4 linked regions of the Homo sapiens genome follow. The protein of the gene in region 1 purifies or fractionates together with the protein of each later gene. This does not show direct contact. Each region holds a gene or a part of one and is shown on either strand. Other genes may lie near its edges.

Evidence for each region.
Region 2: the proteins of CSNK1E (region 1) and SNX24 purify together in Homo sapiens (affinity purification with mass spectrometry; 5 studies listed by BioGRID and IntAct, with this or other methods). This does not show direct contact.
Region 3: the proteins of CSNK1E (region 1) and FAM83H purify together in Homo sapiens (affinity purification with mass spectrometry; 6 studies listed by BioGRID and IntAct, with this or other methods). This does not show direct contact.
Region 4: the proteins of CSNK1E (region 1) and GAPVD1 purify together in Homo sapiens (affinity purification with mass spectrometry; 6 studies listed by BioGRID and IntAct, with this or other methods). This does not show direct contact.

The regions. Positions count from the first base shown.
Region 1 is NC_000022.11:38,293,429-38,300,458, reverse strand, and holds part of CSNK1E (casein kinase I), read left to right. Parts: intron 1-393; coding exon 394-564; intron 565-1,524; coding exon 1,525-1,673; intron 1,674-5,924; coding exon 5,925-6,117; intron 6,118-6,210; coding exon 6,211-6,350; intron 6,351-7,030. Other genes in the region: TPTEP2-CSNK1E (casein kinase I), read left to right, coding at 394-564, 1,525-1,673, 5,925-6,117, 6,211-6,350.
Region 2 is NC_000005.10:122,995,613-123,002,612, forward strand, and holds part of SNX24 (sorting nexin-24), read left to right. Parts: intron 1-2,595; exon of another isoform or gene 2,596-2,725; intron 2,726-4,299; coding exon 4,300-4,394; intron 4,395-5,792; coding exon 5,793-5,825; intron 5,826-6,327; coding exon 6,328-6,392; intron 6,393-7,000. UniProt on the Homo sapiens protein: May be involved in several stages of intracellular trafficking.
Region 3 is NC_000008.11:143,730,766-143,738,105, forward strand, and holds the start of FAM83H (protein FAM83H), read right to left. Parts: upstream 3,015-7,340; 5' UTR 2,926-3,014; intron 2,389-2,925; exon of another isoform or gene 2,318-2,388; intron 1-2,317. Other genes in the region: IQANK1 (IQ motif and ankyrin repeat domain-containing protein 1), read left to right, coding at 5,089-5,173. UniProt on the Homo sapiens protein: May play a major role in the structural organization and calcification of developing enamel. May play a role in keratin cytoskeleton disassembly by recruiting CSNK1A1 to keratin filaments. Thereby, it may regulate epithelial cell migration.
Region 4 is NC_000009.12:125,257,629-125,264,852, forward strand, and holds the start of GAPVD1 (GTPase-activating protein and VPS9 domain-containing protein 1), read left to right. Parts: upstream 1-4,197; 5' UTR 4,198-4,331; exon of another isoform or gene 4,332-4,332; intron 4,333-5,907; exon of another isoform or gene 5,908-6,473; intron 6,474-7,224. UniProt on the Homo sapiens protein: Acts both as a GTPase-activating protein (GAP) and a guanine nucleotide exchange factor (GEF), and participates in various processes such as endocytosis, insulin receptor internalization or LC2A4/GLUT4 trafficking.

The sequences.
Region 1 (7,030 bases):
AGGCTCAGAGGTTTAACATGGGTTGCTTAAGGTCATGCAGCTTAGCTAATGCCAAAGCTGGACTTGACCCCGGCCCTGTCTGATGCTGAAGCTTGTGACCTCTCCACGGGGTGGGCCAGGCAAGGGGGCAGTAGGTGCCCTCTCATAGTCATTGAATGATTAAGTGCCTGAACTGGAAAAACTAGGCCCAAATTAAGTTGAGAAGGCCCTGCCTCAGGCTTCTTCTCTGTAGGAGGAGGATAATAGCAGTGCCTGTTTAAAATGCGTGCAGTGAGCAACATCCGACGTGGGGGCAGGAGGGTCCTGGTGCATTGTGAGGAGCATGACCCAGAGGATGAGTTAGGGGCCTGAGTGGACCCCTGTCCCTCACCTAGTCTTTGACTCTCTGTGCAGAGCAAAGCCGTCGAGATGACCTGGAGAGCCTGGGCTACGTGCTCATGTACTTCAACCTGGGCTCCCTGCCCTGGCAGGGGCTCAAAGCAGCCACCAAGCGCCAGAAGTATGAACGGATCAGCGAGAAGAAGATGTCAACGCCCATCGAGGTCCTCTGCAAAGGCTATCCCTGTGAGTAGCCCAGTGGGAGGGGACATGCCTGGGGGCCCCTGAGGCACTGTCTAAGGGAAAGGTGAGGCCATACAAAGCCCACGCTGGGGCTAGGCGCGGTGGTTCACGCCTGCAGTCCTGGCACTTTGGGAGGCCAAGGCAGGTGGATCATGAGGTCAGGAGGTCGAGACCAGCCTGAGTAACATGGTGAAACCCTGTCTCTACTAAAAATACAAAAATTAGCCCCACCTGTAATCCCAGCTACTCAGGAGGCTGAGGCAGGAGAATTGCTTGAACCTGGGAAGCGGAGGTTGCAGTGAGCCGAGATTGCACCATTGCACTCCAGTCTGGGTGACAGAGCGAGACATCATCTCAAAAACAACAACAACAAAGCCCACACTGGGCTGCCCCACAGCCCTTGGCACCTGAGCAGTAATCCCTGGCTCTTTGCCACTCCTTGGCACAGCCAGAAGGCCCGGTTTCCCTGTCCTGGCTGTTACACCTGTTGCTTCCCGGCCTACATTCCTGCCTCATCTCCCAAGGGCCCTCTCCCCAGTGTTTTTGAGGAGGAATTGGAAGTTTTCCTCTTCTTGCTTAGGTTGTGTTAGAAGGTCCCGTCAGGCTCTTGCAGTCCTTTGAATTTATGGCAACGATTGATCTGTGGGCCCCAGGGTGCTTGGCGAGGGCAGCGGAAGAGCTGTGGGCATGGATGGCTCCTGGATCCGGCTACCTGGCAGAGGCTCCTGGCCACTGTTCGCAGGTCTTCCCTTGCTCTGAAAGCAGCAGAGGCTCTGCTCACGGGCAGGCTAGGCTTTCATCACAGTAGGATAGGGAAGGCCATGGCTCTGTTGCCTCCTTTTCTTGCCTCTCACAGATTGGAAGTATCTAGGGACAGTGGGTGGCTAGGACAGTGCTGGCTGCAGGGGGTCTGGGAGCGTGGGCCTCACAGTGGCCTTCTCTATCCTCTGCAACACCCTCCAGCCGAATTCTCAACATACCTCAACTTCTGCCGCTCCCTGCGGTTTGACGACAAGCCCGACTACTCTTACCTACGTCAGCTCTTCCGCAACCTCTTCCACCGGCAGGGCTTCTCCTATGACTACGTCTTTGACTGGAACATGCTGAAATTCGTGAGTCACCTGGAGGCCAAGGCGGGCTTGGGGGACTGGATGGGGAAGGCCCTGACTCAGAGGGCCAGAGTGAGCTGGTGGCGGGAGGGGCTCCCGACAGACGGGAGGTACGAGCTGGACAGTGTGGTTGACCTCACTGGGGTCCCAGAGCCCTCCAGCCTCATCCGTGCTGACAGCTTGTGCCACCATGGGCAGCAGGGCCCAGGCAGGGCGCTGTCTCCCGTCGGAACAAGGAGGATCTGGCTTCACCTGGGGTCCCTCCTGGGTGCCCGCAGCAGGGCATGGGTGGTGCTGGCGGCGCCCCCTGCTGCCCTGATTGCTGCCTACACCGTCCTGCTGCTCCTGTTCTGCACATCCCAGGTGGCTACCTGCACCATGGCCCCTCGGGCCAGCCTGGACCCAGTCATGGTGCTTGCTTTCTTCTTGGTCATGGGCCCCTGGGTCTGGCTAGGCAGTTGTTCTGTTTCCCTCTTTTAAGAGTCCCAGGGGTGGGGTTGGGTGGGGAGCAGCATTGGCCGGCCGTACCCAGAGCTCTGGAATCTGTGAAATTGTATGTCTTGTTTCACATCTCTTCTGGAAAAGGGGGCTTCCTCGAGCCAGGCTCAGCCCCGTGACAGCCCCATGACAGCGAAGGGACCTTTCTGTCCCCGCCCCTGTCCCTGTGCTGGGCCCACGTACTCACCCACGTACTGGTAAGGATCCTCTGAGGTCTGGCTTTTCCAAAATTTGCCACTTGACCAGTGAGCGCAAGAGGCTGAGCCTCAGCTGTGCTTTTTGTCCCTTTCAGGTGCCCGGCTCCCCTGGGCACCCAGAGCCCCCCAGATAGGCCGGTGGAGGAGGTGGAGGAGCTGTCCCCCCAAAACTACTGGCCTGTGGTCTGGACTCCAGGGCCCCATTTCTGATGTCGCCAGGTGTGCCTGAGCCCATCGGGGCCAGGCCTGAGGAAGTGTTTCTTGGGAGGATGGGATGACCCCCTGTTCCCAAGAGATGGCAGCACAGTGGAGGCCATGGTGGAAAAGGCCCTGCCATGGGGTCCTTGAGGGCCAGGACAGCCTGAGGGAGGGATGGTGGCCACTGCCCACAAGGGGCCTGGTGGGAACGGGTCCCAGGACAGACTCATAGCTAGACCCCGTTGGCGGCCTCTGTGTTGAACCAGAACTCATTAAACACCTCCTCTTGCTTCATCCTGGTGTGCCTCTTTCATGGCAGGGCCCTCAGCCACCCTGCTAGATGGTTAGGACCAAGGCTCTGTTCTCCTGGAAGCCAAGGTCGGCACATTGGTCTTGGGCTTCTCTTCTCTCTGGGTTTCTTGTTCACTAAGGAGTAACACAGAGGTCAGGCAGAGAATGGGGGTCTCGCAGGCTAGGGACCTCAGGGAGAGGCCTCTGTTGCCCTTTTCAGCAAGGCTGGAAATGGGATATGGGCAGGGGACGTCTTCTCTGACTTCACCCTAGACCTTCTGGCTCCAAATGGGGCCCATGGCCTTGAGCACCTGGGACCAGCTCTTTCCACCACAGGGCATTGGGCACTGGGCACTTTCTTATCGAGATAGTCACTCCCACGTCTGGTTCGTGATGGGCTTGGCCCTCCAGCTCAGCACAACTGCAAGAATGGATTTTGTATTCTCTAGACGGACACTGTCCAAGATGGTAGCCATTGGCCACATGCGACACATTTTTAATGAATTAAAATTAATCAAGACTGGAAATGTCGGCCAGGCCTGGTGGCTCATGCCTGTAATCCCAGCACTTTGGGAGGCCATAGAGGGCGGATGACTTGAGGTCAGGAGTTTAAGACCAGCCTGGCCAACATGGTGAAACCCATTTCTACTAAAAACACAAAAATTAGCTGGGCATGGTGGTGTGTTCCTGTAATCCCAGCTGCTTGGGAGGCTGAGGCAGGAGAATCGCTTGAACCCAGGAGGCAGAGATTGGAGTGAGCTGAGATCATGCCACTGCCCTCCAGTGGCCACCACATCCGGCAAGGCAGATGGGACCATTTCCTTCATCCAGAACGTTCTGTGGACATCACTGCTCTAGGTTCCTCCCTTATGGAGTCTCACAAGACTGTCTAGCCAGCAAGATCTCTTTTCCAACCAGGCCAGGAGCACCTCTCCACCCACTGCTGCTGGTCTGACCGCCTTCCTGGAAGTCCCTCTTGAGGCAGGCCCTGGAGTTAGAAGCTGGGCAGAGGCACCCACAGCCTTATCCTTTGCCAATCTCTGACTCAATGCCACGGCCACTGTAGTGAGCTGAACCACCTCCAGCAGTCCCCTGGCAGAAGCACCTGGAAAACATGCAATGGGAACCTTCACCCTGAGGCCAGGCCCTTCCCATGCTACCCAACAGTAGACAGGACACCCTGTGTTGTTGGCTGCACCGGGGTGCTGGGATCTGTGGATCCCTGGGGCCTGGAAGCCACTCTCAGCACATACAGCCACTGTGTTCCGAGGTCCAGTCAGCTGGCCGGGAAGGAATTCAACACAGCCAAGGACAGAGGTCCATATGATGACGGGTGGATGCTCGTGTGACTTTGCTGACCTTTTATGTTTTCTATGGGCAATAAAGGCCAAGAGAGCTCCCTGCTGTGTGTTTCTTGCGTCCTATGGGTTGGATGGGACCATGGAGAGTCGCCCACTTCTTGCCTCGGGGCTGGCAATGGCCTGAGCCTGCTGGGCTCACAAAGGGCAGGGGCTCCAGCCCTCTGCTTGGCTGCTGGCTGCAGGGCTCCACACCTTGGAGTGAGTCACTCAGCCTCTGTATCCCAAGCATGGAAATGAGATTGACCTGCCTCACAGGGTTGATGTGACTCTGCCCGCAGAAGGTTCGGCACGGAGGTGCCACAGCTCGTGTTCCTCCCCAGGCTTTGCTGTGGCTCTGGCTGAGTCACTGTTGGCCAGCCTGCAACCGAGTGGGAGCCCAGGGTGAGGACCGGAGGTCAGGAGTTAGAGCCCCGGTGGTCCCAGGCCTGCCTGAGAGGCTTCTGGGTGGGAGGATGGGAAGATGCATCTTCTAGAGTGTTCTAAGGCAAGACTCTGAACAGTGACCTCTTGGGGTGCAGAGAGCAGAGTGGGACTAGGTGGCAGAGGCCTGGGTTCAGACCCTAGCTCTGCCCTGAGCTGTGCAACCCCGGGCAGGTCACAAGGCCTCTCTGGGCCTTGGTGCCTCACTAAGATTCAGGGATCATTCTGGTCCTAGCCACTACTTCCTGGAGTTGCTTAAAGACAGGGCCCACCCCCACCTCTTGGCCAGTCTCCTGGGAGAGACATGGGTTGCAGGAACCACACCCTGTGCCCATGAGCAGGCCCCCAACTCAGCCCAGAGCTCTCTCCTCCACAGATGCGGCCCCCTTCCTGCCAGCCCCCTGCCCTTCCCTGTGGACGGCCCCAGGATGAACTAGGTAACGCAGTCGGGCGCTGCCCCCACATATGCTCTTCTCTGGCCCCTTCTCACTTCCTCCTGCACCAGGGGCGGCAGTGGCTGGACAGCAGGGCACCTGGGGGCTTAGGGTACCCCTTCTGCTCCAGCTTTGCCTGCTGGGCCTCTTCTTCCTCCGTGGGGAACGTGGCCCCATTTTCTTCTCCAGCTCCCCTTGAGCTTCTGTCCCAAGGCAGGCGGTGTCTGTGGGTTCCCTGGGCCTCCTGGCTGTGGCCTCCACTGCACCTGCCAGAAGCCATTGCCAGGTCCCGGCAGGGGGAAGGACAGCTCCCTGATGAGAAGAGCCCCTGGCTAGGTACCGGGAGAGCTGGTCTGAGTCCTAGCCCAGCCTTCCACTAGTTTTGTGACTCTGGGCCTGTTCTTTTCCCCCTCTGGACACCCCTAGCCAGTCTGCTAGAGGCCTCTAAACAGCTTTCCTGCTCGGTTTAGCAACCTTGAGTAGTTAAGGGCTCTTGGTACACAGAGGGGGGCCAGGGCAGGCCCAGCCCCAGGTCAGGAGGGCCAAGAGGTGCTCTTGATCATCCTGGGCGCATTAGTTGTCCTTTCTCTGGCTCCATCCCAGGAGAGCAGGGCAGACTGACCTCCCTCTGCCCCCAGACTCCTGCTTTCTCCTTCCTCTGGTGGTTGTGTGGCTTCGTGTCTCTGTGCTGTGTGATTGTGGGTCTTGGCTTCCCGCGCTTGTCAGGGAGGCTGGAGCAGAAGGTTTCTGAGATATCCACCTGGCCTCCCTCCCCTTCTGTGCCCTGCAGGGCTGCTGGGCCCAGAGCACCCTGGCCTCTGGGGCTGACTGGTGTCTTTTCTTGCATCCCTGCAGGGTGCAGCCCGGAATCCCGAGGATGTGGACCGGGAGCGGCGAGAACACGAACGCGAGGAGAGGATGGGGCAGCTACGGGGGTCCGCGACCCGAGCCCTGCCCCCTGGCCCACCCACGGGGGCCACTGCCAACCGGCTCCGCAGTGCCGCCGAGCCCGTGGCTTCCACGCCAGCCTCCCGCATCCAGCCGGCTGGTGAGCAGGGACTCAGGCAGTGGGCTGGGTTCAGGGTGGGTGGGGGGCTCTGTTTGTGCCTACTCTGAGGGTGGCTTCCCACTCTCCCTCCAGGCAATACTTCTCCCAGAGCGATCTCGCGGGTCGACCGGGAGAGGAAGGTGAGTATGAGGCTGCACAGGGGTGCGCCCGCCAACGTCTCCTCCTCAGACCTCACTGGGCGGCAAGAGGTCTCCCGGATCCCAGCCTCACAGGTGAGCTGCCCCCCTGCCAGTCCCTCTGGGCCTCAGAACTGAGTTAGAGACCCCCCAGTGGGAGGTCAGGCCGTGGCTCTGTTCTTCCCTTTCCATCGACGCTGCTTGCCTTGGAGTGAACCCCTTCTGTAGAGCCAGGACTTGGCCTCATTTAATCCTCTGAGGTCTGATGAGCCCTCTTGAGCAAAGTCATTCACCAAGGCTCAGGGCAGTAACATTCCCTGGCAAGTGGCACAGCTGGGCTCCAGTCCTCGCTGCCAGGGGCCCAGCCAGGGTGGGCAGCAGGGGCTCAGAGATGAGGTGTTGCTGCTCCCTGACATCAGGGAGCCCCCAGGAGCCCCTGTGAGCATTGGCAAGAGCATGGGGTGTAGGGGCAGTGAGGTCCCATCCTCTTTGGGGCTATGTTTGGATGGGGACACTTGGGAAGGGGGAATCTGTAGTTGCCCAGGGCAGGTGGCCTGGCAGAGGTGGGTGGGAGCCCTGCCCTCGTCCTCCTGCCTGTGGGCGAGGAGGGAGTCCTGCGAGAGAACCCTCATTGGCCATCTACTTAGGTAGCAGGTTTGCCTCCCTGGGCAACATTCTTAGCTACAGACAGGGACATCTTAGAGTCACTGGAATCACACAGGCCTTCCCTCAGCTTGAGGGGCTGCCTGGAGGTGGGGGTGGGGGTACACCTCCTC
Region 2 (7,000 bases), on another chromosome or scaffold:
CTTGCATCTGGGTAATTAATTCTGCCTCTCACAGTATTTCACTCTGTGTGTATACCTGTAAAATTTATTGGGATTTATTTCTAGCTTTTTGTCCAAACTTGTCATATTAATTTTGAATTCTTGATGTTTTACTGCATAAATTAGTTGACAGGCCATGTGTGCCAACTTGCATCCAGGAATGGGATGAGCAGCATCAGAACTTCACCACCAGAGTCACTGGGTAATTAAGTAGATAGCACTGGGCCTGATCCCATCGCTACCCTGCAGTTCAGAATGCCCCTCTTATAACAGGGGCAGCATGGTAGTACTTCATCAGCTGTACTCTAACCCAGCAACGATAGAGTGGAAAATCATACTTTCCTTAATGTTTTGTTAATTTTGGGAGCCCTCCACACCACTGACTGCTGCATTTTAGAATAATATATAGAAGACATGGAAATCATGAATATGAATTACTCTCTAGAATCGGTGCAGCAATAGATTTTGGTGTATTAGAAAGAATCCTTTACCACAGTAGCCTCAATGCCAAACGTTTTCAACTCAGCCCAGAGCTGAAGGCATTAATGAATTCTAATAGCAAGGCAGCATACCCTCCAGTGGGATTCTAATTGACAAAGAGATAGAAAACTGAAACAAGAAGGCCAGCGTGTCCTTTGGGGAGCTGGCACACAGCACCGGCCACAGTGCATCAGGCTCCAGGCCAAAGAAAAGTGAGCCCAGCAGTGAGTGCTATTGCCCTGTCTAAGCTAAAAGCAGGTGTTCTTGGCTGGGCTGTCAGGGGTCTGCAAACCCCCTGCCACTGAAAGCACAATTATAGATGTATGTATGTTTTCCAGCAAGCAGGATACTCAGCTTTTATCTGATACTCAAAAATATCCCTGAAATATAGAGGGCCAAGAAGCTCTGTTTGCTCGATGAACAATTATCCAAACTTCAAAATGGATAAAATAGGTTGTTGGAAATTAATACAACAACAATACTCAAAGAAAAGAGAATTAGCATCTATCCATCGCTGATTGTGTATCAGAGATTCTTGGAGACATTTAATCCTCACAATAACCTAATTTTAAGATAGAAAGAGAAAGGATTCAAACTCAGGTCTTCCTGAAAGCCCACATACTTCCTACTCCACACTGCCTCTCTAAAGAATGAAAGCGATTAACCATTGGATATTAATAAAAAATAAAGATAAGCAATCTAAAACAATAGGGAGATAGGATTTGATATTCAAAAATTTGATTTTTTAAAACTTAGGAGCTTATTGTTGAGCAAAGTTGAGAGATTTAAACCCAACTGACATTTATTCTATAGGATGACCCAGGGTACAGCTTCAAGAAGGGGTGGTTCCTTCAGAGCAAAAGCCTTTCAAGAAACTGAAGAAGTTGTAAATGGAACAGTTGTGAGGTCCAGCCTTACTGTTCAGTTTCTCATGAATATGATCATGTGTGTATGAACAAAAAGATTTAATTCCTCTTTTGTATCTCTGTACCAGTTGATGACAGTCATTTGTACATAATATATTACATTAGGTAAATTCTTCTGTATTTTACTTTGTCTCTGAAGTATTAGTTCTTTTCTCCCAAGCTTTTAAAACAGAGCTTAGGAAATATTCCTGCCCACATAACTAAATGCTTAACTAACTCTCAATGCTGCCTTCTCTAAAACTATAAATCCCAAAGTACATATTGGTCATTGTTTTATGGAAAATATTATTTGAGAATATTCGGTGAAAATTTAGCAAAGTAAATTCATGCAAATTTCTGGAGTTTTCTGTAGTGCTTTTGCCAGTATATCTTACGTAAAGCAATGTGATCATCTGTTTGGAGAACTCTGTTTGGGGAAGCTGAGCAGGATTAATTCCCGTCCCTGTGTTGCAGTGTAAATAGCTTTTTTCCTGTCTTTTGTCATTAATGATCATGCCGTAGATGTAGCCAGTGCATTGTAAGCCGATCTGTCAAGGCAAATAAACAATTCACCTTGTTAAAATTCCCTAAATCTTGCATTAATAAACCTAAGTAACCCCCTGAACACTCAAGAGATGTCTTCCTCCATACTGCGGTGATGGATGACACGTCTAAAGATCCTGGAAATTAAGTAGTTCAGGTCATTAAAAGTGTCCCACACTTGTTATTGATTTAATTTATTTTAAGAAGGTGGGGGTGGAGATAAGAATGTTATACCCTCCCCTCTTTTTTTAAATCTGAAAGCAACCACTTGTACAGATAATTAAAACTATTGCCTGGGGTAACAAGTCTGCATGTGTTACAAATTAGGCTTTATTATTCAAATAAGTATTGTATCATCCTCTTAAACAGATATCTAGAAAAAAAAACAATCATTGAAACATGTGTCATAGCCAAAATACCTCGGAGTTTTATATGTGTGATGACGCCTAGAACTTTTTGAGTTACAGGCACTGAAATAATGACCTCTGGGCACCTAAAAAATGTCCTTGAATAGGTAAAAACTGAGATGAAAGTGAAATGATTTAAGGAAATTTAATTGAAATAGTAATGAAATTATGCCTCTGGATAAAGGAGGTTTTTTTTTTCTTTTTATTTTCTGAACTTTTTATTTTTCTATTTTTATAACCAGGAGAAAGTAAACACATACACACACATGGATGGAGAGAGGGACAGAGGGATGGACGGATGAATGCATTGGTAGATGGGAAAACGCTTAGAGAGTGATACGCTATTTCGATTCTATCTCACTATATTCTAAGGCAAGTTTAAGTTGTTGTTTAGTGTGTGTGTTTACTTGTTCATTGCTAGCTTTCTTCAGCCCATGCTCCACTGGACCTGTAAGATTTATCATCATGTCCCAGTGCCTAACATAATAGATGCCCAGGAAATTATTATTTAGTGAATAAAGTATAACACCCCAATTTTTTCTTCTATCTTTTATTCCTTAAGCTTCCATGGGAATGGTGAGCTGTGTAAAGAACCGTAGCAGCCCCCAGTGGAAGTGGCTCTTTAGATGACCCCTCTCCAGGGACTGAACACCAGGAGGGTTCTGCTCTAGTGTGGGACAGAGGGCAGCCTAGGAGGACTGGCAACCTGTATAGTTACCCACTTCATTTGTATGACCTGAACTGGGTAACAGTATTACAAAACCTGATGAGGAATTGGGGCCACTCAGTATGTGAACCATGGCTAAGAACAAGATGTGATATAGAACTATGTATCTACAAGGTACATAATTTCACCTCACTTTTGTTACTTGTTATGTATCTTATGCACCACCCTTACACAGTATTCCTGATCAGTTGTGTGAGTGATATTTCACCACTGATTCTCATAGTTCTTTAAACAACATGTACTTACTGGACAAAATTTACCCATGATAAGTTATGAAAAATGACCCTTAAGAATAGTTGTATTGAAGTCAGAGATTATGATAAAACCTTTGATGCTTTTCTCCTGTGGTCTTTTAGAAGAGGGGGAGGGGGAGGGGGAGGTGGCAAACTTATATTCAGTTCACACACTCTGGTAGACTTTAAAAATACATAGATAAGAAGATACATACTTCTTTGTCAGATTTCTCCTTGACATTGCATAATCTGGATCTCTGATTACTGACATGGTTATGCCATCATGCCAGCTATGTAGCAGAGCTCACTAAATGGAAGAACTCTATAGATTTTTTTTTCAGCATGTACACTGATTTACACTTAGCAGTAAAGTTGTTACTGACCCTTTAAGTGGAGCTGTCCAAATGGCAATAAATGTCAGTTGATTCTAATGCCAAAACAGGTGATAGTTGAGGGTTCTTGACTAAATCTTCCAGTTAAAAAATAATTTATCATATTTCCTAAATAGTAGTGGTCTCCTGTGGGGAGATACACACACACACACACACACACATGTATACATAATGTATATCAGACCACTTTATCACTCAGTAAAGAAAATTTGATATACATATCTTAACAGTATTATTGATGTTGCCAGGTTTTGAAATATTCACTCTGGATTAGAATCTCCATGAAGGCAAGAACCATTTCTACCTGGCTCCCCACTGTCTTGTCCCCTAGTCAGCATCTAGTGTATAGTAGGTGCTCTATAAATGCCAGTTGAATGAAAGAACAGATAAACTGCAGGATTTGCCGGCAATCCCTAGCATGTGTGTCAGCCCGAATTCCTGGTGGGCAAAACAGAGACCACTCCTCATCTTGACTGTGAGGAATGTTGCTGGTAAGAACTTTGATGGACGGTTATGACTTTTTGAAATAGTTCATTTGATTGATCACCTAGCAAACTTCACTTCAGTTTCGAATTCTGTTTTCTGCTTTCACAGGCTGTCATTTTAGAAAATGAAGAACTTCCCAAACTGTTTCTTGATTTCCTAAATGTGCGACACTTGCCCTCTCTACCAAAGGCAGAAAGTTGTGGGTAAGAATCATGTTTGCATATTGGATGTGTATTTTAAATTACTCTTCAATGACCAATTGATCTAACAAATAGCCCAGAGTGATGCCCGAGTAGCCTGCCGGCCACGCCCACTCTTTTGGCTTGCTGCAGCACTCGCTCGCCCCCTGCTTTTGGTTAAAAGAATTCCTCTGAGTCCTTATGCCCATCTTGCGGCCAAATGGCCATGGTTCGGTAACCCATGTTTAGACTCAAGGAATCAATCTTTTCAATTACACTGTTACATAGAATGATGTTACTTGATGGGAATTATGAATCTAATTAACTTGTTATGGGCTCATTTATTAGTGGAAACTCGAACAAAATTCATATCCTGGTGGTACACATTCATATAATTTTAAAGTTATGAATGATCTTAGAGATGATTTGATGCAACTCCTCTCATTTTGTAGTTGAGCAAACAGAGACACAGGAATTTAATGACTTTCCCAAGATCTCTTGCCTTGTAGCTTGCAGAACCGAGGCCTTCCAAGGCAAGCCCTCTTCCTCTACTGTCCAGCTGCCTCTCTCAGGAACTTCCAGTGGCAGGACTACAAATCCTAATCCCTATCTATTGGTCTAAACCCATTGGTCCTAACCCAAGGACCCAGAGGTTTGATATCATCAGCAATTAGGAAAAGCTCTCCCGAAGAATTAACTCTGAAATAAGCCACTGGCCCAGCAACAGCACATGACATGGGCTGAGCTAGCCTCAGAAGGCCTTCAGGAACATCCATGGCATACTGTATCCATTTACAGGGGAAAAAATCATCACAAACTCTCTGAAAATCCATGCAGGAGAGAGGTTTACCCATTTTCTTGCTGCCTGAAGGAACCACACTTAACTACAAGAAAATCAAGCAGGCCACACCCAAAGTCATGTTAAACCCCAGCCATCTGCTGGATGATGGGGCTGCAAACACCTGTCACAGCTCCTCATGAGCACTGTTTACTCAGAGCCACTTTCCACTTATTGCATAACAAAAATTATACACTTGGCAAATACTGTGTTGTCAGTGTGTTCTGTTCCAACTTGTATGTATTTACGGGCAGGTTAGGCTTCATATATGTTTATGTATTTTTTAGAATAGACATTAGCAATGGCAGTGAGCGAAATGTTTTCTCCATTATACAAGCCCAAAAGTAGTAATAAAACCTGAGGATTTTTAAGTAATCTTAAGAGAAATCAAAGAATATTCCAGTCTTCAGATTCCTTAGAATGGGGCATAGCCATGCTGTGGCTCAGTGGAAACTCACAGCTCTTTTAAAAAATAACTACCAATTCAGTCATCTAATAATATTGGGTATTTTTTCCTTTGTTGGCATAAACATTGACTCAACATATGTGGTTTTTTTGTTTTTTTCCTTTTTCAAAACTTTTAGATCTTTTGATGAAACAGAGTCTGAAGAGTCAAGGTAAGGACTAATCCTCATCAGCCAGGAATAGGATTATGGTTTTGCTAAATGTTTAATCACCTACGATGTGTTTCAAGTTATGTTTTTCTTAAGAACCTTTGTTTGGAAATTGGTTTTAAGATTATAAATATTTGATAGGGAATTACAGGAGTAACCAGTTAGAATTAAGAGTGGAGGAATAAGAGCCCTACATTGTTTCATGCAAGTAATCAGAATGTTTTATCAACAATCGTATTACAAGATTTTTAGGAAATCACGTTTCAGCAATGATTTATTGTATAGATTGTATATTTGCTTCAAATTCCACAAAGAAATGTTTAGAAGATGAGAGCAGTGCCCATTTGTTCACTCTTACTCTGCGTGCTATTATTCACCCACACTGTTAGAACATAAACCTTGAGACGTCCCCGCACAGCAGTTTGATCCCCTCAAAGCTAGTTTGTAGTGTTTTCTGTTTACCATCGTCCCCTGATGCTGACATGCCTGTTCTTGACCTTTCCAGCAAACTGTCCCACCAGCCTGTGCTGCTGTTCCTCAGGGATCCATATGTCTTGCCTGCAGCCAGCGGTAATCAAACCTGTCATCTGCTAACAGCTCTTTACTGATCTGACCCTGCACCACATAAACCACGTTTTTAATACAGGTCTAACAGAGTGACATTGGTCCCGGGCTTAATAATCTGCCAATAAACCAGTGCTCTTGGTATAAGCGACACTTAGAATTTTAATTGGGGCTGGCCTTTCAGGAGGAAATGTAATTTTTCTTTCTCTCTTACCAGACTATTTTGAATTAGAGTAATAAGGAAGAATGGTATTTATGGTCCTTAATTTTTCTGATCATGTCATTTTGGCCTCTGCTTGTTTTTGTCCAGATGCCAAGGTTCAAATTCAAGGCTCTAGTCCTTTTTAAAAATGCCTCTTCCCGGCCAGGCATTTTTAAAATCCCAGCACTTTGGGAGGCCAAGGCGGGTGGATCATGAGGTCAGGAGATGGAAACCATCCTGGCTAACACGGTGAAACCCCGTCTCTACTAAAAATACAAAAAATTAGCCGGGCGTGGTGGCCGGCGCCTATAATCCCAGCTACTCGGGAAGCTGAGGCAGGAGAATGGCGTGAACCCGGGAGGCGGAGCTTGCAGTGAGCCGAGATCGCGCCACTGCACTCCAGCCTGGGCGA
Region 3 (7,340 bases), on another chromosome or scaffold:
AACCCAGACCCTAGGATGCCCCTAGCTGAGGGGACACTGGCAGAGGGCTGGGGCACAGGTATCCCAGCCCTGTCTCTCCTTTCTCTGGGAGGCTGAGGCAGGAGGACTGCTTGAAGCCAGGAGTTTGAAACCAGCCTGGGCAACACAGCAAGACCCCATCTCTACAAAAAATTTTAAACATTAGGCAGGCATGGTGGCGTGCACACATAGTCCCAGGCACTTGGGAAGCTGAGACAGAAGGATTGTTTGAGCCCAGGAGTTGGAGGCTGCTGTGAATTATGATTGTGACACTGCACTCCTGCCTGGGTGACAGAGTGAGACCACATCACTACAAAAAATAAAAATAAAACGAACCCCCCCCCCCAAATATTTCATGACTGTTGGCTTAAAGACAAACAATCCAGGCTGCATTCATCATTATAATATTCACTTTTTTCTTATTTTAAGACATTCACGGACCCCTGGCACTGTGCCTACTGGACAAGCTGGTGCCGCCCATGCTGCCCATGTGTCCGTCTCTGACTGCCTGGGAGACTGTGGGTAGGTCACTGCACCTCTCTGGCCTACCTCTACTGCACAACACAGCTGAGGGTCCACATGACACCACGCCTAGCCCAAGGTGAGCGCAGCAAACAGGGCTGTGACTACCCTCCTCCTGGAATGGCAACCTTAAGCCCCACACATAGTCCCGGGCCACACCTCCTCCCCATCCTCAGGGTTTCACAATTGGGCTCCCACAGCCCATTCTATGACCGCCCAGTCCTGGAACACTGATCCCTAGACTCCGTCCCTGTCTCCCAGCACCCCCTCCTTCCCTTGGCCTACCTTTGACCTCTTTCTTGTCACTGTCCCTCTCAGATAAAACCTCCCTGGGCCACAGCCCCTTGGTGCCCACAGGGCCCTGCAGGGCCTGCACTCCACATCGCCCAAATCTGGCTCTCCACTTGCTCAGAGTCCTGTCCCCACCAGCCCCCATCCAGGGCAGCAGGGACCTTTCCAGGTCCTGGGCTCGCCACCACCATCCATGCTTGGCTGCCCCACAGCCCACTCTGTTCTCCAAAGGGTCCCTGCGGGGGCCTGGCCTCTCCAGAAAGGTGTCAGATGGGGAGCGCCCAGGGCCCACGCACACAGGGTCACTGAGCTACCTGGGTACCTCTCCCTGGAAGGAGAGCCCTAGGGACTGCTCAGTCCATCCCACTGCTCCTCGGGTTGGGGAGGGAGGCAGGACACCTGTCCCCGCCTAGCACACAGGTTCCTGAATGTTGGCCCTGGCTAGGAAGGTGCCCAGAGGAGCGTGCCCCTGGGCGCTGACAGGATGGATGCCGGCCAGCTGGACTACATGGGTGCTAGCCGGAGCCACTTGGCTGAGAATGTTGGGGTCAGGAGGCAGCCGTCCTGCCTGGTGCCCCTGGGGGTGACATGGAGTTGAGACATGGGAAATACCTGGTGCCACTCAACAGCCCTAGATGCCAACCGGCTTGGGAGAAGCTGTCCCAACATTTCTTTGTTGGGGCACCGTCCTCATGGTTGACATATGGGGCTGGTTAGGGCACACCGCTCTGGTTGTGCCAGGGGCAGATCGAGGCCAACCACATGGGGGTGAGGTGTAGGCCTGTCTGGCTGGGCCGAGGAGCCCACTCACCATTGCCAGCCTGTCTGTAGGGGCGGTGTCTGACCATACAGGGCAGGGGGAACAACCCTGCTGATGTTGTTTGAGGGTACTTCCCGACACTGGGGGGACACTCTAGAAAGGACCCCCACTGTCCCTTTGGATTTCAGTGTCCAGGCTCCAGGCTGTGTGTAATGGGGGCAGGGACCATCCAGACAGTGGAAGCCCCCGTGGCCAGGAGCCCTCCCAGCAGACATGCCTCGTCCTCACAGGGTGATGCCCAGACCTCCAACTGCTTCATTCCTCACGTCGTCTCCTTTCATGGGTACGTGTCTCCTGGGCTATGGACGGGGCTGCAGCCACTCCCGAGCCCAAGATGGAGCACCCCAGTGGCCTGCATGCCCACACATTTGCCTACCAAACGTCTGCCCAAGGGAGGGAGGGCGCGGAACCCACCCATGGGCAATGACTCAGCACGAATCCACTCTTCTGCTTGCTGACCCCTGACCTCTGACTCGAAGTCAGGGCCCTCAGCTGGCCTTCAAGGACCCCATCCTCTCCACCCTGGCAGGAAGTGGGGTTCCTGAGTATCTGGAAGGAGGACCCCATGGAAGGATCTGGAGTTCCTACACAAAGTGGGGTGAACCTGTGCCAAGTTCCGATGGGCGCAGGAGGGCGCGGAGGCTCTAGGCGGCGGAAAGGTGGGGTGCGGAGGACGGGGCTCACAGACCGGAAGTCGCTCAGTGATAACTTGCGGAGTGGGCACCCCAGCCCCCAACGGGGTCAGTGCACCCTACGAGCTCGCGGCTGCGGCCGCTGGGTGCCCTATCCGCCCACCCCAGCCCAGGAACGTGGGCGCGAGGGGCAGCACTCCCATCACTCGCCCTGCTCGCCACGCGGGGATCCAGGCCGCACCCTGGCCACCCCAGTCCACGGCGGCCCGGGCGGATGTCCCCAGGGAAGGGTCCAGGCCGTGCCCAGCACCCAGACTCCAGCTAGGCCGCGAGGGCGGGAGCGAGTCGGGACGGCCGGGCAGGCTCGACCCGGATCCCGGGCCCCTTCCCCCTCGGCTCTTTTCGGGCCGGCGTCGTGCGGGGGCGCTCGCGTCCATATCCGCACAGCGGCGCCCCCTGTCCGAGCAGCCCCGCCACCCCGGCCCCGCGCACGCGGCCGCGCTCCACTCCCACCGCCCCTCTCTGGGTCGCGCGGCCCCGGCCCAGGTGTGGGCGCAAGGGTAGCCCAAGTGGGACCGCGCCAAGGGGCGCCCGCCCCCCGCCTCGCCCCGCCCCGCTCGGGCCGGGGGAGGGGGGCCCTACCTGGCCAGGTGCGCGGGGTCTCGGCACAGGGGCAGCAGGAGCCGACCGCCGCCCAGCGGCCTCGCGGTCCGGTCGGTCCGGCAGCCACTCCCTGCCGCGGCCCGCCCGGCCTGATTCACGCGCCCGCCCCCGCCCCGCCCGTCGCTCCTGCCTCCTGCCTGCCCGGGCAGCACCTGGGGGCGGGGCAGCCCCACCCGCGGCGCGCCCGCATTCCTGCGCCCCGCGCCCGCCGCCAGCCCCAGCCCGCGCCCCCGGCCCGCGCCCCGACCCGCCCGTGCCCTGCGGCCGCGCGCCCGGAGACCCCGGCCCAGCGCCGCCGGAGACCGTGAGGCCCGCACTTCAAAGACCCCGACCCCCGGGAGCCCAACTGTTGACCCAAGGCTCAAAGTTCCCAGCCTGACCCCTGACCCTCGCCCCGGAAGTCGGGGTGACTCGGAAGTTCCGGCTCAGTCGCTAGGAAACGAGCGAGCCCGACGCCAGGGGCGGAGCTCTGGCCTCCTCGCCGAGTTGGGGGAGGCAGGTGCGACAGGTGAGGACGGTGGGGCGGCGTCGAGCCCCGGGCGGGGCCGGGTCTGGGAGCCCCGAGAGCACAGGGGATCCCCTCACCACACACCGGTCTCCCACCGCACCAGCGCCCCACACGTAGACGAGGACCCCGCCCACACAGAGGACCCCCAGACCCCAACCCCCACCACACACACTGATGCCCACAAGTACCTGGGGTCCCCCATCTTTCTCCCTCACCCCCTCACACCGATGCCCACACTTGTAGGGGACTCTGCCGCAGTGACCCCCCCATGCACATGCGGACCCCGAATGACCTGTGCCTCATGTACACCAACCCCCAAGCACAGGAGACTCCTCAGGAAGACAGAAGCCACAAGCACACCGAGTCCTGCCCATGCCAGTCACCCACGAACACGCTGACATCCGCACACCTAGGGAACCCCACCTGCATATGAGATTTCTCAGACACCAACCCCACACACAAACAGGGGATGCCATATTCACACTGACTCTGAGAGCACAGGGGACCTCCCTCACATACGGAACCCTGTGTACACACAGGGACTCTGCAAAAACCAAGCCCCAACGGACAAGGGACCCAGTGTGCACACCAAGCCTCATACCAGACGCCCCCCCATGTACACAGCAACCCCCACACACCACCCCGAGCTGCCCCTGGGTGCTCCAGTCCCCCAGGTCCCCCTCAGGCCCTCACTTAGGGCCCCTCCCCCTCTTAGGCCCTGCCCTACACTGGATCATCTGTCCAAACCACCACCCCTCGCCCCTGCCACTCCCACCCCAAGGACTGGCCCTGCCTCAACCCTTTCTGATGGTCATCAGTCGCCTTTCTCTTTGTTCCTCTTGCCATGTGATCCTATTTTCTGTTTTCAGGGTCAGTCCCAGTTTCATTTGTTCTTTCCCCAAACACTCAGTGCCACCCCACTGGTACCAGCATGCTGGAAACATGGGTGGGGGGTCAGACCAGTGCCCAGGCAACTGTGCTGCAGCGGGTGAGGGGCATGGGGCACCGGGGAGGACCCGGACAGGCTGGGGCAGGCAGGAGGAGCCTCCCAGGGAAATGAACTTGGGGGTCAGCTGTGTGGACTAGGGAGAGGGGTGTTGCTCCAGGGCCTGACACCACCATCTGCCAGAGCCGGGACCACATAAGGTCTGAGGGTGTGGAGGGGTGAGTGCCTTGGGTGGGCTGGGGAGCAGGCTCAGGGGTGGGCTGGCTTCCCAGGGCAGTGGAGAGGCATGGAGGCTTCAGCAGAGAGGGCCATGCTCATGATTACGGTGAGAACAAAGACCGGCCCACTGGCAACCCAGCAGCTTGGGGCAGGGAGAAGAGTGCTAGACTCCAGATCCTGCGCCCGGCAGGATGGGCTGAGCCTGGGGCGGAGGGGCAGGCAAGCCACGGCCAGGGGGACGGGAGGTGGCCAAGTGCTCTTGCCAGGCATCCCGGCTCAAGCTTCTGGGCACACACCCGGGGCGGGCAGGCAGACAGGACACCAGCTGGGAAGCCTCAGGGGAGCCCATGTTCCTGCTGTCATCCACTCAGGCGCCCATGGTGTGCCCTGTTCCCCACTGCCACTGCCCCTGCCCTCTGCCACTCTGAGCACCCTCTCCCTGGTCCTTCCCTACCCACCCCCCAGGAGAATGGACAGTAAGAAGGGGAGACCCAAAGCTGCAGCTGGGAAGTGGCAGACGCTCCACCCTGGGCCCAAGACAAGAGCTGCTGCTGGTAAGTGCACCCTCTGACCTCCAGAGCACTGTCACCCAGACACTGACCTGTGAGACCTTCTATGTAGCCACCGAGAGACACCCCCTCTGAGGAGAGCCCTTCTTCCAAGAGTGGCTTTTAGGGGACCTCTGAGTTGGGATTAGGTGTGATTGACTGAGGGTTCAGAGCCCATTCATTCATCTCAGACCTTGAGCCTGAATCTATTTTTTTTTTTTTTTTTGAGACGGAGTCTCGCTCTTGTCACCCAGTCGAGTGCAATGGCGCAATCCCTCCTCACTGCAACCTCCGCCTCCTGGGTCCAAGTGAGTCTTGTGCTTCAGCCTCCCGAGTAGCTGGGATTATGGACGTGCGCCACCACGCCCTGCTGATTTTTGTATTTTTGTTTTAGTAGAGACGGGGTTTCGCCACATTGACCAGGCTGGTCTTGAATTCCTGACCTCAGGTGATCCGCCCGCCTCGGCCTCTCAAAGTGCTGGGATTACAGGCTTGAGCCACATGCCCGGCCAAGCCTGAATCTTATACCCCTGGGGTTGGGGTGGGGGCCTAGGGGTAGCACTCAGAGAAGCCCAGCTTTGGAACACATGGAGGTGGGAAGGGGGCAGGAGCCAGTGGGAGGCGCCTAGATGGCCAAAAATGGGTTTTGAAACAGGAGGGTTTGAGTCCAAGTTGGGGATTCTCAGTCTAAGCATGTGTTCTCTGACTCTCTGCTCCATCTGGGCCATCCTGTGCTGCCCTCTGCCTGCGGCTTTGCTCCCAGTCACCTTCTCCATAGTCACTTCCAGGTTGGATGGTGACAGCTCACCTGGGCTGGGTTTTCCTGTGGGTCAGGAAGGAGACTTCCCCCAGTACCCTCCCCCACCCCAGCCCCGCCTTCACTGTTGTCACTCCCTTGCTCCAGCTCCCATTTATTCTCTATGCTGGCTGTGAACACATTCCAGGTTGCAAATCTGGGGTCCTTCAGCACCCAGGCCTGCACTGGGGTCTGTGCTTGCTAAGAGAGCACCCCATCCTGCTCCCCAGACTGCCCCTCTGCTTAGAGTGGGCCTGGCCTAACACCCCTGGTTGCCAGAGAGCTCCCAGATTCACAGGAGCAGGTGGGATGATGGTGACCGCTCCTCCACGCCAGGCTGGGGTTAGATCCTAGTTCCCCAAAATAGCCCCAGCTGCGTCTGAGGCCAGCCGCCCTCCTGGAATGAGGATAATGGGCACAGGTGCCGCATGCTGCTTCCGCAATCTCTAGCCCTGAGTACACTGCACTCCAATAAACGGGGGGCAGGGCAGGTGGACCAGCAAGGCAGCCAGGAAACTGGGTTGCAGGGGTGGGGGCTGTGCTCTTCAGTTCTGCTACCTACTGACTGCACACCCAGGCCTTCGCCCTGCACCGCAGCCCATACACTGCCCTGGACGGCTCTGGCCCAGCATGCCTGGGTCTGCTGCAGGGACACCTCTGTCCCTGAACAAGTATCTGCCCTCAGTGCCCATTTCCACCAAGCATTGGGCCAGCCTGGGCAGGCTTGCTGTCCCTTGGTCTTGCAGTGCCCTGTGTGGCGGGCACCGGCTTCACTTGGCAGATGTGAAGATGGGCCCACAGATACCCTGCATCCAGCCTGGCTTCCTGGGCCTCCACAGGCATCCCTAGGTTGCTGCAGTGGCCACCGCACCAACACAACAGTCCGGGACCCCTCCCGCCACCCCATCCAGGCCTTACCTGGCCTTGGGTCTGCAGTGCTTCGAAGCCCTCACTCCGGAGCTGCTCCAGGGCCACGGCCAGCTGCAGCCCCTCCACGTGTACCCAGGCCTGCTCCTCCTGTAGCTGCTGCAGCCACAGCTGCTCCTCCTGTAGCTGCTGCAGCCATAGCTGCTCCTCCCGCCACAGCTGCATCTGCAGCTGGACCTGCCGCCACCGGTCCTCCAGCAGCAGCTGCTCCTGGGCCAGGCACAGCTGGACCTCATGGAGCCTCAGCAGTTCGGGGCCCAGGGCCGGCATGGGGTCCCCTGCTCCACAGCCTTCCATGTGCCCAGCAAGGACCAGCACCAGCTCAGACCCCGGAGCAGTGGCCGGCACCGGTCTCGAGGCTGCCTGTGGCTGCTCTGGCCTGGCCACCCTGGGGTGTCCCTGAGGTGCTGGCTCGATGCTGGTCACGTGCCCTGTAGGGGCCACCCCCGC
Region 4 (7,224 bases), on another chromosome or scaffold:
CAGATCACCTGAGGTTGGGAGTTCGAGACCAGCCTGACCAACATGGAGAAACCCCGTCTCTACTAAAAATACAAAATTTGCTGGCGCAGTAGCTCACACCTGTAATCCCAGCACTTTGGGAGGCCGAGGCGGGCAGATCACGAGGTCAGGAGTTCAAGACCAGCCTGGCCAACATAGTGAAACCCTGTCTGAACTAAAAATACAAAAATTAGCCAGGGATGGTGGCGTGCGCTTGTAGTCTCAGCTACTCTGGAGGTTGAGGCAGGAGAATCACTTGAACCTGGGAGGCGGAGGTTATGGTGAGCTGATATCGCGCCATGGCACTCCAGCCTGGGCAACAAGAGCGAAACTCCATAAAAAAAAAAAAAAAAATTAGCCGGGCATGGTGGCCCGAACTGTAATCCCAGCTGTTCGGGAGGCTGAGGCATGAGAATTGCTTGAACCTGGGAGGCGGAGGTTGTGGTAAGCCGAGATCGTGCCATTGTACTCCAGCCTGGGCAATAAGAGCGAAACTCTGTCTCAAAAAAGAAAAAGAAAAAGAAAAATTAGCCAGGCATGGTGGCGTGCACCTGTAATCCCAGCTGAGGATTAGGCATGAGAACTGCTTGATCCCAGGAGGTGGAGGTTGCAGTGAGTTGAGATCATTCCACTGCACTCCAGCCTGGGCAACAGAGTGAGACTCCATCTCAAACAAAACAAAACAAAACAAAACAAAAAACAAACAGGCGAGCCCAGCACAGCGGTGCAAGCCTGTGGTCCCAGGTACTCAGGAAGCTGAGGCATGAGGATCCCTTGAGCCCTCACGATAGCACCTGTGAATAGTTACTGCATTCTAGCCTGGGCAACATAGCAAGACCTATTTCTAAAATAAAAATGTAGACAAATTATTACATTCTAGGCAGTACGCCCAGTGGTGAATAAGATGGAGTCTGCGCCCTCAGGGACTATGTGTTGGTTTAAATTTTCACCTCAAGTTAACATTTGTGATTCAATATAAGTGATGAAGTTTGGGGGCCTTTGAGGGACCTGGGGATAAAGTGTTTTTTTGTCCAGAAATACTTGCCAGAGGCCCCTTAAATCACTTGGCCATAGCATCTGCTTTCTTGGCTTACTTCTAAGACTGGCTGTGTACACATAGAAGGAAAAAGAACATTAAAAAAAATGTTTTGCGATTCTAAGGCAGAGTAGTTTAATAGAGTATGGAGTTGGGAGGCTGAAGAACTAAACTCTACACAAGGTCCAGTATGAATTTTGTGACCATGAACAAGTAACTTCATATCCTTCTATGTCAGGGAAGACTGAGTTGTGTATGGAAAGAAAGGGGCTTTGGACAGAGTTTACTGTGTATTCATCCATTCATTTAAAAAACAAAAAACAAACATTACATTCTAGGCAGTATGCCAGGTTCTAGGGAGACAGTGATCTGCCCTCAGTGAGTACTACTTATTGATTTTGAGCAAATTTTCACCTCTTGAGTTTACTTTCCCATTTGTAAAAGGGATGAAAATAATACCTATTCCATATTTCCCAAGAATCACTGTTGTAGTGATCCATAGTTCTAGCAGGAGATTTGAATTCCTTGAGTGTGCTGACTGGAAAAAAAAAAGAAAATTGCTTGTTAGTTCAAGTTCTTCATTTGTAGGTGACAGAACAGGGCTCAGAAGATTAACTGACCATTCTAGTTCCTTTTTTACTTCTCACATGCAATGCAGCTTCCCTGAAGATTCTTTTGCAACTTTTGGGGCCTCTCCTTCCCTTCCTCCCTGGCCTGGGTGCTCCAGCCTACCCAGACGCAGTGTTCCAGAGCCCACTGTGAATGTGGTTTTGCTAAGGCTGAGTTCTTCCTTAGCAGTCCACGAATGCCATCTCTTGTCTTGAAATCCAGCCATCCAGTAACTCCTAACTGTCACCTCTTCCATAAGGTCATGAACCCTCAACTTGAAAAGGCCATTCTCTCTGAGAATCTCAGAATGCTTTGTACCTTGGCTTATTATGATGATCCTTAATCTGTGGCAGTTTCATCCTACCCTAGATTGTAAATTGTATCCTCTTGCTTATTTCTTTTCTTTTTTTTTTTTTCTTGAGACAGAGTCTCGCTCTGTCGCCCAGGCTGGAGTGCAGTGGCACGATCTCCACTCACTGCAAGCTCCGTCTCCCGGGTTCACGCCATTCTCCTGCCTCAGCCTCCCGTGTAGCTGGGACTACAGGCGCCTGCCACCATGCCCGGCTAATTTTTTGTATTTTTAGTAGAGACAGGTTTCTACCGTGTTAGCCAGGATGGTCTCGATCTCCTGACCTCATGATCCGCCCACCTCGGCCTCCCAAAGTGCTGGGATTACAGGCGTGAGCCACTGCGCCCGGCCTCCTCTTGCTTATTTCATGCCAGCGGTGCATTGAGTAATGTCTTGTAACAGAGCTGATTGAATTCCTGAATGAGTTGAATGGCAGCACGATAGCAATAACATCTGACCAGCCTACCATAGGTGGTTCTATTACTACCTATGTAGTCATAAAACAAGGCAATAAATATGAAGCAATTCTGTCAATGTTGTTGTTGCTGTTTTGTTTTGAGACAGGTTTCACTCTGCTGCCCAGGATGGAGTTCAGTGGCATGATCACAGCTCACTGCAGCCTTGACCTTTTTGGGCTTGGTGATCCTCCCACTTCAGCCTCCCTAGTAGCTGGGACTACAGGTGCAAGCCACCATGCCTCGCTGATTTTTGTATTTTTTGTAGAGTTGGGGTTTCACTATGTTGCTCAGGCTGGTCTTGAACTTCTGGGCTCAAGCAATCCTCCTGCCTTGGCCTCGCAAAGTGCTAGGATTATAGGCATATGCCACCATGCCCCTAAAGGTGACATCAAGAGAGGTGAGTAGATAGAAAGCAGTTTGGGAGTTGATTGACATTTGAAATAGCTGGGGAAATGATTATTACTTTTTTCCTTTTTTTGCCTGGAGACTCCCAGTATTGGAGGATATAATCATTGTTCTCAATTTTTTGAAGATCTGTCAAGTGGAAGACATTCTGTATTGCTCCAGGCAGCCTAACTACCAGCAATGGAAGGAAATAAAGGGAAACAGATTTCAGCTCAGCAGGAGGCAGAACTTTCTAACATTTAGAGCTGTCCAACAGTGGAGCAGGCTGCATTACTTGAGGGAGTGAGCTCCCTGAAATTTGAACTGTTGAACAGGAAGATGACCATCTGGCTGAATGTACAGGAGGGAATTCCTGCCTGGGCAACAGTTGCACTAGTGACCTTTAAGCAGGTATCTTCCAATTTTAAGGTTTCTAGACTGTTCAACTCAGCTAACTTGACCTCTGAATATATGAGTTATGGTGTTACAAAAATTATTAGACAGTTCATTTATTGACTTACCTAAAATAACTGCATGGTGAAGTTTATGATAAGCAAGATTTTAGAAACTGAGAAGTGGGAAGGCAGGTTTTACACTGAAAATCCAGATACCATCCAAACCAATTAATGGCACTTAGAACAAAAGGGAAGGGAGGGGCCGGCAGCGGTGGCTCACGCCTGTAATCCCAGCACTTTGGGAGGCCGAGGCGGGCGGATCACGAGGTCAGGAGATCGAGACCATCCTGGCTAACACGGTGAAACCTCGTCTCTACTAAAAATCAAAAAATTAGCCGGGCGTGGTGGCGGGCGCTTGTAGTTCCAGCTACTTGGGAGGCTGAGGCGGGAGAATGGCGTGAACCCGGGAGGCGGAGCTTGCAGTGAGCCGAGATTGAGCCACTGCACTCCAGCCTGGGCGACAGAGCCAGACTCCGTCTCGAAAAAAAAAAAAAAAGGGAAGGGAGGTTTGTAAGTAGTGTGTGCGTACGTGTGAGAGAGAAACAGAGAAGAGAGAGAGTCATTCATGCGAATAATGTGTCCTGGGCAACTGAGCGTTGTCACAGAAAGCATAAAACGCTCTACATTTTTGCTTTACACATACTTGCTCAGTCGGATTCTTCACGTCCAGCATTACTGCAGGCGGAAACCAGGGCCCAGGCCTGGTGAACAGCCTTCCGGAAGACGATTCCGGACCCGGACACCCACGACAGCCTCAGGGGGCAGCTGACCTAGGGCTGCCTAAGGCGGAAGTGGGAGCCCCTAGCCGCCCGGGCGGAACTACAGCTCCCAGAGGCCCCCGCGGCGCTGCGCACGCGCGCTGGCGTGGCGGCAGCGCCGCTGCAGGACGCAGGGAAGCCAACAGGCGAGTGGCGAAGGTGGCGGCAGCGGCGGCGGGGGCAGTCACCGGCTAGGGCGACGGCTCCGAGGCCGAGTGGCGGTCCGACAGAGTCCTCCGTGTCCTCCCCCGCATGACCCCCTTGGTGAGTACGCGTCCCGATTTAGTCCGCGGGCTGTGAGCGGCTCCCTGCCTCGCGGCCGGGTTGCTCCGGCCTAGGGCCGCAGCCTGTCTCTGACTGCCCGGCCGTCAGGTCCAACTGACCCCGGGGTCCTGGGCTCTTCCCGTCAGTGTCGGGCGAGGTGGGGGTCGGGGGACACTGGGTTAGACCCAGGGGAGAGATGTGGCGGCGCGCAGGAGCCAGGGCGGCCTGGGGCTGAGGAGAGGGAGAGACGCGTGGGGGATGGGATGGGAAGGGACAGGAGGACCGCGGGGCGGCCTCGGGTGGGGGCCAGAGACGAGAGGCCCGGCAGGTAGGGAACTGAGTATAGGAGGCGAGAACGAAATGGAATGTCTTCTGAGTGTCGCTGATAAAGATATCGTGCTGCAGGGAAGCTTGACAAGCTGGACACACGGGTCTGGGGGCAGCCCACCTAACACAGACACTCACTGTACTTGGCATCTTTCCACTTGCTGTCGGAGGTCTGAAAGTGAGGGAGCTGTTGGTTGTTTCCATCCCTTTTCTTTTAACTTCACCTTTTATTGACTGGCAAAATTGTAGTGAGTGCTGGCTAGGCAAACCACAGAAGTACACCCAGGGTTCTGTGTATAAATGTGCATAAAAACAGGGAGACATAGTGATAGGTTCAGATGAGAACTAGGTCAAAGGAGGAATCAGTGTTTTTATTTTTAAATTTATGACGAAAATCAGTTCTGAGCAGGACTTTGAACTAGAGAGGGGTTTTAAACTGGAGTTCATTGATGGATAGAATTAGAAGGGTCCTTTCACTAGAAGGAGGATAAAATGACATCATTATTTTTATTGACTGCTAACTGAAACTTATTATTTCCTTCAGTTACGAATGTGGACAACAAGCCAGAGTAGCATTAGCAGCGCCTATGACTTTGTGATCAATAAAAATTACGGATATTTTTGCATCATGTTTACAGTTGCAGATAGCTCAGAATATCATTTATGGTTAACACTTCTTTGAATTTCTGGTGTTACTAGACCCGCCGTTAGACATTGTTATTTAATGTGATAATAAGGCTGTACATATATTATGACCATATTAGTTTGTTGTTTTGCTAATATTTCCATATAATTGGTTTCCCTTGTAATCACATGTATTTAATTATGCACTTAAAAGAAATCTGAGAAAGGGACCATAGGCTTCACCAAACTGCCAATGAGGTCCGTGCACAAAAAGATTAAGAACTCCTGAAATAATTTGGGAGGCCGAGGCGGGCGGATCATTGAGGTCAAGAGATCGAGACCATCCTGGCCAACATGGTGAAACCCCATCTCTACTAAAAATACAAAAATTAGTTGGGTGTGGTGGCCCATGCCTGTAATCCCAGCTACTTGGGAGGCTGAGGCAAGAGAATCACTTGAGCCCGGGAGGTGGATATTGCAGTGAGCCAAGATCACGCCACTGCACTCCAGCCTGGCAACAGAGCGAGACTCCGTCTCAAAAAACAAAACAAAACAAAAAAACTCCTGAAATAGAAATAAGGTTTTTTGGATTTATAAGTCTACTTAGAAGAACTGTTGTTTTTTTTTTTTTGGTTGTAAGTTTATTCAATGCAAAAGAATCCTCTCCAATTTTACTGAGGTGGCTGACCACGTCCACGACCAAATCCGTCTCAACTGGAATTTGGCTGCTGACCCAGCCCCAGCCTCAGCTTTCTTGTCGGCACTAAGTGGCACAGCACTCCATCTGTAGGTATGTCTGTCAGCACTCCATCTGTAGGTATGTCTGTCAGCTTCCCCTCTTGTGAGTCTCGCAGGTCACTCACCCTCCAGACCTTTAGGCTGAGGCCTGCCGGTCTCTGGACAGCTATGGCGTAGGGTAGCAGGTACAGTCTCCGGGGGGCAGATGAAGGTAATCCCGGAGATACTGGATACCCTCATTGGTAAGGTACCAGTAGAAATGTCTCCAGGCAAACTGTTCCTTCATGTAGCCTTGAGACTTGAGAGACTGCATGGCCTTCATGACATGAAGGTTGGGCACGTTCTTGTCTGCCAGCTCTGGGTGCTTAGGCATGTGGACATCCTTCTTGGCCACCATGACTCCCTCCTTAAAAAGGAGTTCATAAATGGCAATCTGGTTCTTTAGAAGAACATTTGAATCATTGAAGGCAGACAGGATGACAGTGTAGACGAAAGAGAATTTCATAATCAGGGAGATAAAAAATTTGGATGGGATCAGGGTAGTCTTTTGTTTTGTTTTGTTTTGAGACGGAGTCTGGCTCTGTTGCCTAGGCTGGAGTGCAGTGGCATGATCTCCGCTCACTGCGACCTCAGCTTCCTGGGTTCAAGCGATTCTTGTGCCTCAGCTTCCTGAGTAGCTGGGACTACAGACACCAGCCACCACGCCTGGATAATTTTTATATTTTTAGTAGAGGCAAGGTTTCACCATGTTGGTCAGGCTGGTCTCAAAGTCCTGACCTCAGGTGATCTGCCTGCCTCGGACTCCCAAAGTGCTGGGATTACTGATGTGAGCCACCGCGTCCTGCCCAGAGTAGTCATTTTGAAAGAATAGACCATAGATATTTCATTCAGGGTAATGGGGAATGAACAAAATAATCGGAAGAAGAAAGAAAAGTGAATATGTTGGCCTTTAAATTTTTGTATTAAGGCACCTCCCCACTTCCAAGGGATTGCAGCTCTGTAAGCTCTAATGTAAGCCTGAGAAAAGAAATTTTACTGTTTGCTGGTTTTCTTTAAATCATGGAGGTGGATTTTTTTTTTTTTTTTCTGAGATGGAGTCTCAGGCTGTCGCCCAGGCTGGAGTGCAGTGGCGCGATCTCAGCTCACTGCAAGCTCTGCCTACCGGGTTCATGCCATTCTCCTGCCTCAGCCTCCCAGGTAGCTG